2 separate regions of the Homo sapiens genome follow, and region 2 is linked to region 1. Evidence: fine-mapped expression QTL. A gene starts in region 1. The other region holds a variant in brackets. All regions are shown on one strand. Distances are between the middles of the regions.

The links. PIP is the estimated chance that this variant, and not a neighbour inherited with it, causes the effect.
Region 2: its variant is the best candidate, but not a certain one, in a credible set for the expression of SEC14L2 in whole blood (INTERVAL, PIP 0.72).

The regions. Positions count from the first base shown.
Region 1 is chr22:30,394,559-30,399,922 of GRCh38, reverse strand. SEC14L2 (SEC14 like lipid binding 2) reads right to left here and starts at 2,905. Exons shown (of 12, transcript NM_012429.5): 1 at 2,753-2,905; 2 at 205-280. The coding sequence starts at 2,806. RefSeq lists silencers at 2,513-2,572, 2,593-2,662.
Region 2 is chr22:30,296,847-30,302,193 of GRCh38, reverse strand. It overlaps TBC1D10A (TBC1 domain family member 10A), which reads left to right. Exons shown (of 9, transcript NM_031937.3): 3 at 2,643-2,750. Among named protein-coding and RNA genes, the nearest start is that of CASTOR1, 10 kb to the right of the region's middle. The variant A/T (reference allele first, on the strand shown) is at 1,963.

The sequences.
Region 1 (5,364 bases):
TGGAACAAGTCACTTGACCTCTCTGAGCCTCAGTGTCTTTATCCACTAGGAGGGTTGAGCTTATGTCATTGCCAAGGGCCCTTTGGCGCTAAAGGTTGGACACTCTAGATGCCTCAATTGCCAAGGGCAGGGTTTTCAGAGGGTGCTATTCTGTTGCCCAGAACAAGCCCCTGCCCCAGCCTCCCGCAGCCCCTCTTCCCTCACCTCGGAGCCAACGCAGGAGAAAATAGTCATCTGGATTCGGCAGGGCCGGCAGCACATCCTGGACATTCTCCCGAAACTGTAGGGAGAGGCATCGGGGTGAGTGGTAGGGCCCGCCCTGACTGCTGCCCTCTGCCTAGGACTCTCCACTGAGATCTTTGCTGGACGCCTCTTTCTTTGTTTCTTTTTTTTTTTTTTTTTTTTTTTTGAGATAGAGTCTCGCACTCTCGCCCAGGCTGGAGTGCGGTGGGCGATCTCCACTCCCTGTAAGCTCTGCCTCCCGGGTTCACACCATTCTCCTGACTCAGCCTCCCAAGTAGCTGGGACTACAGGGGCCTGCCAACACGCCTGGCTATTTTTTGTATTTTTAGTAGAGACAGGGTTTCACCGTGTTAGCCAGGGTAGTCTTGATCTCCTGACCTCGTCCTGATCCGCCCATCTCGGTCTAAAGTGCTGGGATTACAGGCATGAACCCCCACGCCCGGCCAACTGGACTTCTCTTTAACATAGTTCAACTCTGCAGACACTCCCTGGGCACTCATGCTGCCTGGAGCACTGTCTTGTCAGGGGGTGCCAGGTTGCAGGGCAGGAAGTGGGAAGGGAGTGAGACACTGCCCCTGCCCCACAACAAGGGCTCCCACACACCAGTCTGCGGGCAGGCAGATGTGTTCCCAGCTAATCGTGATAGTAGGCACTCTGATACGGACTGCAGTAAAAGCTGTCAGTTTACCAAGCATTTCCTGTCGCTCAGCGCTGATCTTGGCACCATAGCTTATTTACTCCTCACTCACAACCCGTAGAAGTATTGTCCCCATTCTACAGATGAAGGAATTAAAGCTCAGAGAGGCTAAGTAACATGCCCAAGGTCAAACAGCTAGTCATTAGCAGAGTTGGGATGCAAACCCGGGTCTGTCTGAGTCCAGAGCACACACTCTTTCCACCATGGTCTTCTGCCCCATGGAAGGATGAGGAGTTTGCTGGGGAGCAGAGGGAAGAAAGAGGTGGTCTCACACGGCTTCCTATAAAACATGGCATTTGTGCTGGGCTTGAAGGACTTCAAAGGCAGCGGGGGAGAGAGGTGGGCAACTCAGGTGGAGGGAACAGTTCCAGTAGGGGAAGCCAGGAAGCGGGAAAGTGCAGGTAGTGCCAAACAAAGGAGGTGGACAGTGACCTCAATGGACAGCCACACCTACCTCCAACCTCTCACTCCCTGGTAGGCGAACAGGCCCCTATATGCCCTCCCTGAGCCTCCTGCTCCCAGCCATTCACCTTTCCCTGACCACTGACCTAGAGGGCAGTCCCAGAGGACACTAATGAGGACTGGCCACCTCTGCCCCTTGCCTAGGTCAGCCAGGGACTCAGACCATCCCACCCCACAAAGCAGCTCCCAGTGCACCAGGGAAACTGCTCCTCCAAACTGCAGGCATGAAGCTACCCCTCTCCAAGGACCCTAACCAGCCCCTGGTCTCCAGTTTAATCACCACCTAATCCCTTCTCTGCCTGACCTCTCCTGCGAGTCAGCAGTAAAATCTGAAGCCTCCCTGTCCAGCCTTCCTGGGATGGGGGAGGCCCAGCCTGGGACAGAGGCTTTATGGAGCTGGTGCCTCCCCACTGCTGCCAGTGGCAGGATACATCTGCCCCCCGCCCCACCTTTCCCAGCCATGGAAAACTCCCCAGCTGTGGAGCCTCCAAATCTTGGGGCCAGACCCTATCGGCTCTTGCCCAGAGAAGAGCCGACCTCCTCACTCCCCAGGGGTGACAGATAAGAGATTTAGTTCGTGAAGAGGAAGGTCCCGCCCTCAAACTGTTGCCCCCTCCTTGTCACAGATGCCAAGGCAAAGCCAGGCTCACCTTCTTGCCTTCTGAGGAGCATAAACCTTAAGTCCTGAACCAGGCAGGGGTCTGGGATGCAAGATAGGGGACGGCTGGTCTCAGCTCAAACTAACACCAACCCAGTGCCTCATGGGGGGAGCCTGGAATTCACACACGGAGGTGTTCCCTTCAACATCATCTGGTCCAACCTCCTCATTCCATGGCATCGAGGAGCAAAGAGAAGGGCAGGGTTTTGCCCAAGGTCGCACAGCGGCTTGGTGCCGGGGCAGGAGCTATCCAAGTCTCCCAAGGAGCTATCCAGAGCCCTTTCCATCGTGCCACTGACCCTACAAGAAGAAAGCCTCCCGGAAATGGGAGGAAACTTGGGCCCCTGCCCCTGCCCCTGCCCCAGGGCCCGGCTGCCAGTCCCGAGGATGAATGTTGCCTTTGTGCCCTCAGCGGCCTCCGGGGACTCACAAGCAACCACTTGTCCCCAGGTGGCACCGCCACGGCTGCTCAGAGCTTGGGCGGGGGGTGGCCAAACTTCCTGGGACCTCGAGGGTGGCAAAGGGAGGAAGGAGCCATCCGCGGGCGCGGGCCAGGCTGGGACAGCCGCCTCTGTTCCCTCCGCCGCCCGCCACGGACCCTCGGCCCCCACCCAGCCCCGTCCCTTCTCGCTGCCGCAGGAGGGCGAGGGCCACAGCCCGAGGCGGGAGCCCGGGCCAGGGCTACAGCTCACCTTGGCCAATGCCTCCTTCTGCCTGGGGCTCAGATCGCCGACTCTGCCGCTCATCGTGGCTCAACCGCGGGGATGGGGTTTGGGGGCGGGAGGCGGCGGGTGCGGCAGCTGATGGAGCACAGACTCGTCCTCGCCGCCACCCGGAGTAAAGTCCCAGCCTTTTGCCCGGGCCGCGGAGCTGGCAGCCAAGCCCCGCCTCTTAAAGGATCCCGAGAGGCGGAGTAGGGAGCGATGCGCTGGGGCGCGGAAGGCTCTGACACGGGCCCCCTCCGCCCTCCTGAAGTCAGAGACCCAGGCAGGAGGCGAGCAAGTGTGCCCACTGGGACTGAGGCCAGTGGGCATCAGAAGGGCAGGGAGTCTCAGTTTTAGTTCCAAATTTATCCTTACCTCATTGTGTGACCTTGGAAGAGACACCTGAGCTCTCTGGGCCTCTGAACAAGGAGGGATTGAAAGGTGCTATCTAATGAGCTCTTCTAACCAGGCTCGCATAGTGCAGGACAGCACAGCATCCTGCACACAGGGATTGTTTTTGCATTGTTTTTTTTTTGAAACGGAGACTCGCTCTGTCACCCAGGCTGGAGTGCAGTGTCACGACCTCGGCTCACTGCAACCTTCGCCTCCCGGGTTCAAGCTATTCTCCTGCCTCGGCCTCCCGAGTAGCTGGGATTACAGGTGCACGCCACCATGCCAAGCTAATTTTTGTATTTTTAGTACAGATGGGGTTTCACCATGTTGGCCAGGCGGGTGTCGAACTCCTGACCTCAAGTGATCCGCCTCGGCCTCTCAAAGTGCTAGGATTACAAATGTGAGCCACGGTGCCCAGCCTACAGGGATTATTAATAAATGTATCCTGAATGAATGAATGAATGTAAGAACTGCTCCAATAGAGACACAGATCCCGGGGCTGGCAGAACCCTGAGAGGGAGAGAGAAACATAGATCATTCAGGGATCATGCAACTTACCTCGTTTAACAGCTAGGGAAACTGAGGCCCAGATAAGGCATGGCTTGCCCAAAGTTGTTAGTGGCATGACATATGTGGAGTGCCCACTGCCTGGCACATGGAAAGTGCTCAGCTGTGCCCTCCCCTTATGGCCTGGAATTAATGCAGAGCTAGGTCCAGGAGTCTGTGGGCATCTCGTCTCCCAGAGCCATACTTCTGCCCCCTCAACACTCAAGTCTCTGGGAGAGACAAAGCAGAATGTCCCCAGTCTCTCTCCTTACCTGGAGGCAAAGGCACCAGGCCTGTTAAAGACATTTAAGGACTTTGCTCTGCCCTTGGTGTGGCCCCCTCCATAGACGCCTGCTGCAGGGTGCAGAGTGAGGGTTGAGGCCCCCAACGCCCACCTCTACAGAGAGTTTTCAGGCAGTTCTGCCCTAGTTAGGCTCGCTGGCTTCTGGCCTGGGGCAGGACAGGGCTGCCTTCCTTACTGGATACATGGCTAAGATCTTTATATAAGACCCTTCCAGGGCCAGGATATTCTTTCCAGGCTAGAGCCTACTCAAAGGAAACTATTATAGAAGAACAGCATCTTGGCCGGGCGCGGTGGCTCACACCTATAATCCCAGCACTTTGGGAGGCCAAGGCAGGCAGATCACCTGAGGTCAGGAGTTTGAGACTAGCCTGGCCAACATGGTGAAACCCCGTCTCTACTAAAAATACAAACATTAGCTAGGCGTGGTGGTGTGCATCTGTAGTCCCAGCTACTCAGGAGGCTGAGGTGGGAGAATTGCTTGAACCTGGGAGGCAGAGGATGCAGCGAGCTGAGATCACACCATTGTACTCCAGTCTGGGGCGACAGAGCAAGACTCCCTCTAAAAAAAAAAAACAAACAAACAAAAAATAAAAACAAGAAGCACAGCCTCTTATATTGGTTCAGCAACTTAGAGCTCACAAGGTACCTTCAGATCTAGCTTGTCACTTAAGTGTGGGACAATCCTCTAAGGTAGGCAGGTCAGGTGACTTATTGAGGAGCCTGAGGGAGAGGTGGTCATAGGTGGGCACGTGCAGAGTTGGGACTTAAACCCAAGTTTGTGGTTTCTAGGCCGTATGCTCCCAGGCCAAGGTGTGGACGGGCCTGGGAACTGCCTGCGAAAGTTACCCACGAAAGTACAAGATCACCTTCACCCAGCAGGATACAGCCCTCCCCGCATCTGAAGTTACCCAAATAAAAGCCTCGGTAAAGAACCCTTCCCCAGGCCTGCCCTTCCCAGGTTCAACAGCTGCCTCTTTCTTCTTCCTCCACTGAGACTTAACCTACTTCTGGCCCACCATAAAACAGCTAGTTAATTTGATCATATAAATCCTAAATAGGCCCAGGCTCGGTTGCTCACACCCGTAATCCCAGCACTTCGGGAGGCTGAAGTGGGTGAATCACCTGAGGTCAGGAGTTCAAGACCAGCCTGGCCAACATGGTGAACCTCGTATCTACTAAACATACCAAAAAAAAAAAAATTAGCCAGGCATGGTGGCACACACCTGTAGTCCCAGCTACTTGGGAGCCTGAGGCAGGAGAATCGCTTGAACCCAGGAGGTGGAGGCTGCAGTGACCCAAGATGGCACCATTGCATTCCAGCCTGGGCGACAAAGCAAGGCTCTGTCTCAAAAAAAAA
Region 2 (5,347 bases), 98 kb after region 1:
CATCCTCCCTAAGGCAGGCAGGGTAGAGATGACCCCCTCCAGCACCTTTATGCTGAGGAGGCCAGAGTGGGAAAGGCTGGCTGTACTCCCAGCTCTTTGCTGCCCGCGAAGTGTTCCAGGGCTCTCCTGGAGAAGGCCAAATATGATGGGGGCTGTGATGATGTGGGGCTGCCTCTTGCTGAGCTTAGCTCTGTGGGAGAGCCTGAAGGGCCTGTGGCTTTGGGCTAAAGCACATCCCTTTGCCAAAGCCTGCCCAAGTTGGCTTCCTTAAGGAGACCCTTGTCCCATAGCCGCAGGAAACTCTTCCTTGCGTCTAGTGCAGTTCCCTTCAGCCCCCTTCCTCTGCCTCCTTTCTAGGCAGTCCCAGAAGCTCTCACTTGGCACCTGTGACCAGCCACTGCTACTCTTCCCCCACCACCCTCAGCCTGTTTGCCTGGCTCCTTCCTGGTTCTTGACTCTCTCTGACCCTTGGAAAGTTTTCTCTTGTTTGCACTGGTCCCCAGGAAGGCCAGGGCTTCTGTACTCCCTCCTCTGAGAGCTTCCAGCAGGACTGTTGAAGGGGGTTTCTAGGTGAGGGGAAGTTAGGTGTGAGCTGAGGTCCTGGGCTTCTGTGTCAAGCATCCTCCTGGGATGGAGGGGCAGAGAGGAAGCCATTGCTTACTGAACACAGACTGTGTCAGGCCCCACACTAAGCACATTTTCCCTCTCTAATGGACTCCTTTGACAACTCTGCACAGTAGTAGGTATTATTCAGATCTTACAGTTGAGAAGTGGTTGGCTTAAGGTCAGCGCTAGATTCAAACCCACATCCAGATGTTCTTCTCATGCCCCGAGCGCCCATCCCCTTTATCCCAGGTCAGGCTGCTTAGTGCAGGGGTTGAGGGAGTATCATTGGCCATCTCACCCCTCCCCCACCACAGCATTTCACAGGAGTGATGCCTCTGCCTTTGTCCTTGCCCACCTTGACGGGTCAGGGCAACTGCCTTCAGAGCCTCATTCTGGTCCCAAGCCCAGGAGGAGCCCACTGGTGATGTAGAAAGTACACGGGGCTGGGTCCCTCCAGCCTGTGCGGTGCAGCTAGGAGGTAGTAGGGTTTCTGATTGTATGACAAATTTACCCCCACTCTGCTTGTGTGATGAAATTTCCCCCACGAATTTTCCCCTACCCTCAATGCCCCATTTGTAAAAGACATGATCGTTTTGATAGTTTTTCAAATTGAGTTTTGCCAGTGAAAACTTTTCCTGATAAAAACAGCTAGCCGGAATTGAGCACTAGCTCTGGGTCATGAGCTGCCTCAAATACTTCCTCCCTCACTTCTCCCATTCTACGAGTGGCAGAGAAGACCTGGGCCATTTTAGCAAGGGCTGAGATCAGGACTCACACTCAGGCCAGCTGCCTATGCCCCAGGCTGGTGATGTTGGGAGCTCAGGGTCAACGAGAGGAGAGTGGGGATTCTTGACCAAAACAAAGAGGGAGCCATTTGAGCAGCTCCCATCTTCCTTCAGAGTTCTGCTGAGATTTCTCCCCTCTAGGCTGGCGGTATCCTGCCACATGGCTGCTGAAACCAACATACCTGCGTGAAAGTGCCCAGGCCACACCTCTGGGCACATTCTGGTTCATCTCATGAGCTACCTTCCCTGTGGCTGCAGCTGAGCCGCACACAGTGCAATGCCCTCCCTGGTGACAGACTATGGGGTTCACCCAACTTGTAATGGTTCCTTTTCCTTTTTTTTTTTTTTTTTCCTGAAACAGAGTCTCGGTCTGTCGCCCCGGCTGGAGTGCAGTGGCACGATCTTAGCTTACTGCAACCTCCACCTCCTGGGTTCAAGCGATTCTCGTGCCTCAGCCTCCCAAGTAGCTAGGATTACAGGCGCCCACCACCATGCCTGGCTAATTTTTTGTATTTTTAGTAGAGACGGGGTTTCACCATGTTGGCCAGGCTGGTCTCGAACTCCTGACCTT[A/T]AGTGATCTGCCCTTCTCGGCTCCCCAGAGTGCTGGGATTACAGGTGTGAGCCAGCGTGCCCGCCTATAGGGTTCCATTTTGATTCAGAAGATAGTTATGAGGGTCTGGAATTCCATGGCAAACCTCAGGAATGCCTGTGTTGTCACCAGGGATGTGGGACCCTGCCATCACCTGGTGTTAGCATATCTAATTGCAGGCACCTCCTCTCCCCGCACCATAGGATTGGCATGGTAGCAACAGTAGGAAAAGTCCTTTTTTTTTTTTTGAGACAGAGTTTTGCTCTTGTCACCCGGCTGGAGGGCAATGGCACGATCTTGGCTCACTGCAACTCTGCTTCCCGGGTTCAAATGATTCTCCTGCCTTAGCCTCCCGAGTCGCTAGGATTACAGGCGCCCGCCACCACACCCAGCTAATTTTTGTATTTTTAGTAGACACGGGGTTTCACCATGTTGGCCAGGCTGGTCTCAAACTCCTGAACTCAGGTGATCCACCCGCCTCGGCCTCCCAAAGTGCTGGGATTACAGGCGTGAGCCACCTTGCCCGGCGAAAGTCCTCTTTTCTCCCTGTTTCTGCTCTTGCTGCTGTGTGCACTGAGGGCCCACCACGCATTGGCAGAGGGGCTGGGCTAGGGGAGCTGCCTGGGTGGCTGCATGGGCTCAGCTGTCCTTTTGATTTTCAGATTCGTCTGCGGTGCCAAAAGGGCATCCCGCCTTCTCTGCGGGGCCGTGCTTGGCAGTACCTGTCAGGAGGCAAGGTGAAGTTACAGCAGAACCCTGGAAAGTTTGACGTAAGTTTCCCTTCCTTTGCCCTGCCCTCCCTTCCGCATCTCTTGGCGTCCTCCCCATGGCGGCAATCCTCCATGTGCTCACCTGAACCTCACAGGATGAGCAGTCCATGAAACCTCCAGTCATGTGCCCAACTGCCCAGGCCCCAGCAGGCCAGACCGGCCCAGTCCTGGGTACCTGTGTCTCCTGGAGGGTCTGTACAACTGAGGCTCCAGCCCTGAGCAGCCCTCAGTGGAATGGCCAGATTTGGTACCCCCTATTCCAGCTCTTTCTCTTGATGACCACTCAGGTTTTGCTTTCCTGGGCTCAGTAGGCTACCTCCCTGCTCTTGGTCATCAGGAGGGGACACTCAGACCATTTCCCTGACTGCCTTGGGCCCTGTGCCCTGGGCCTATGGGGGCTTGACTAGCAGGACCACAGGTCCTTCAGTGTCTCCCGGCCTCCCATCCTCTACTTTCTCCTGCCTTGTCCAAGCCTGGCCAGCACAGCCCACCTGTGTGTCTTGTGGGGTCATCAGCCCTAGGAGTAGCAGAGCCAAACCCAAGGGGGCTGAAGGGAACTGCCCAAGTAGCTCAAGGGGTCAGACGCCAGTCAGTGGCCAGAGAGGGTGCCCTCTGTTGTTATCCCTCCTCCTGTCCCGATATCCCTCCTGCTGCTCCCTGCCCCATGGCTGGCCAGAGTAAAATACCTCTCCATTCAGAGCTGGGCAGCTCCTCCAGCCTGCTCCCCCAGGGAACTATGGGGAAGCAGTTGGATTCCCTGGGGTTGCCCCGGCTTACCTGCCAGATCTGGCCGCAGGCATCGGGGTTTCTCGCAGGCCCTTGGGACTGGTGACAGGCAGACAGTGAGACAGAGCAGAGCTGCCTACCACCAGCTCTTTGTTGACATATCTCATGCTTCTTCATTGAACACTCCAGTCTTGCCAAACCTGTTCCTTGAGATGACTGGGCAGGAGCAGGGCAAGGTAGCCTAGAGTTTCTGCTGTTGACCTGGAGAGGGCGAGAGCTTTTTGCTGGCAACACGTGGACTTGCAGGGGCAGGGAAGCTGGTAGAGTGTCTGGCTGGGGTAGGTCTGAATCTGGCTGATTGGATTATTCCCCAGAGCACCAATACCAGGCCACACTGGAGCAGCCTCTTGACTCCAGAGTCTTCCTCCTAGTGGCTACATCTCTTCCATTTCGAGGGGCCGCATCCTGGGCAAAGTGGGAGGCTCAGGGGTGGGAACCTCAGTCCAAGTCCATAGTTAAAATCAGGCTGCCAGAGCCAGGCATGAGAGCCAAGAGCGTGGGCAGCCTGGTCAGCCTCTTGGCTGTGTGGTTCAGCAAGCATGAGTGTGTGTGCAGCAGAACACAGAGCTGTGTGCATGTGTGTGTAGAGCTGTGCTTCCAGAGAAGAATCAGCCACCCCCCAGGGGGTCTGGAAAGTTGCTTGTGTGAGGAGGTGGATTTGCAGAGAAGGCCTTCTTGATGCACCGAAGCTGAGTGACGGGTTCCTGCATGGTTCTGGGGGCTGGAAGAATGGTTTGTGAGCACACCTGGAAAGACTTTGCCTGTGGGTGACCCAGAGGAAGCATGAGGAGCTTCCCCTGGTTGCTGCGGGTCCTGTGCCGAGGCAGGGCACAGTGGGGGTCTGGTGATGGCAGCATGCACCTGTTTCTGTGCTCTCTCCCCACAGGGCCCTCCATTCAATACCCAGTCCAGGTGGCCCATCCCAACCTCAGCATTCAGGGCAGGCTCTGCAGGTGCTGGTGGCTCCTTCTCCTGCACGTGCTATTTCTTCCTCCTTCCTTGGGCAGGCAGGACCTCCTGTCCTTTTTTACCTGGCTTTCTTCTCTGGCTTCACCTTATGATGGCGCCAGTACCCCTCAGGCTGGTGGAGGCTACAGGCCCCATGACCATGGTACCTGCTTGTCTGCCGGTGCCCTTTCGATCTGCAGCTACCCTCTTTTCCTTTCTCACCAACCATGTGTGGCCAAGTGCCTTAGGCTGCTGAAGTGCCAGATGAACACATCCTAGGAACTGACTTCCGGGGTTTTCGGGTTCCTACCTCATGGGAACTGCTAGGAGAATTTGTGGGGCCCTCTTCCCCATTCTGACAAAAGCAAACCTGCACTGCGCTCAGACAGTACTTAGAGGTGCACAGTACACAGACCCCCATCACAAGGGTGTGTGGGGCCCCAGAGGCACGCATCCACCGCTCCGCTATGTGCCTGCTCTAGGGCTCTGTGTGGAGGCCCCAGCCCCTCCCTGTCCCCTCCAGCCCTGAACACTCTGTCAGCCGCTCCTCTCAGTCCTTACCCTCTAGTCAAGTTCCTGGCACCCTAGGTTCTTGAGCTTAATGCTAGGACACTCCCACTGAGGGCCAGAGAGGGAAAGGGGCTTGTATGAAGTCACCTGCTCGTCAGGGCAGGGCCTGTGTCTGCGCCCACTGGGTATGTTTGCTGAGGACCTGGCCTCCCTCCTGAGGGCCTTCCCTGATGCTGCCCCTGCCCTGCAGGCAACTTGTACTTAAACCAACACTCCCATGAAGGTGCCTGGGCCACACCTTTCAGCACATTCTGGTTCCTCTGGTGAATACTCTGCTTCCCTGCTCAGCCCTC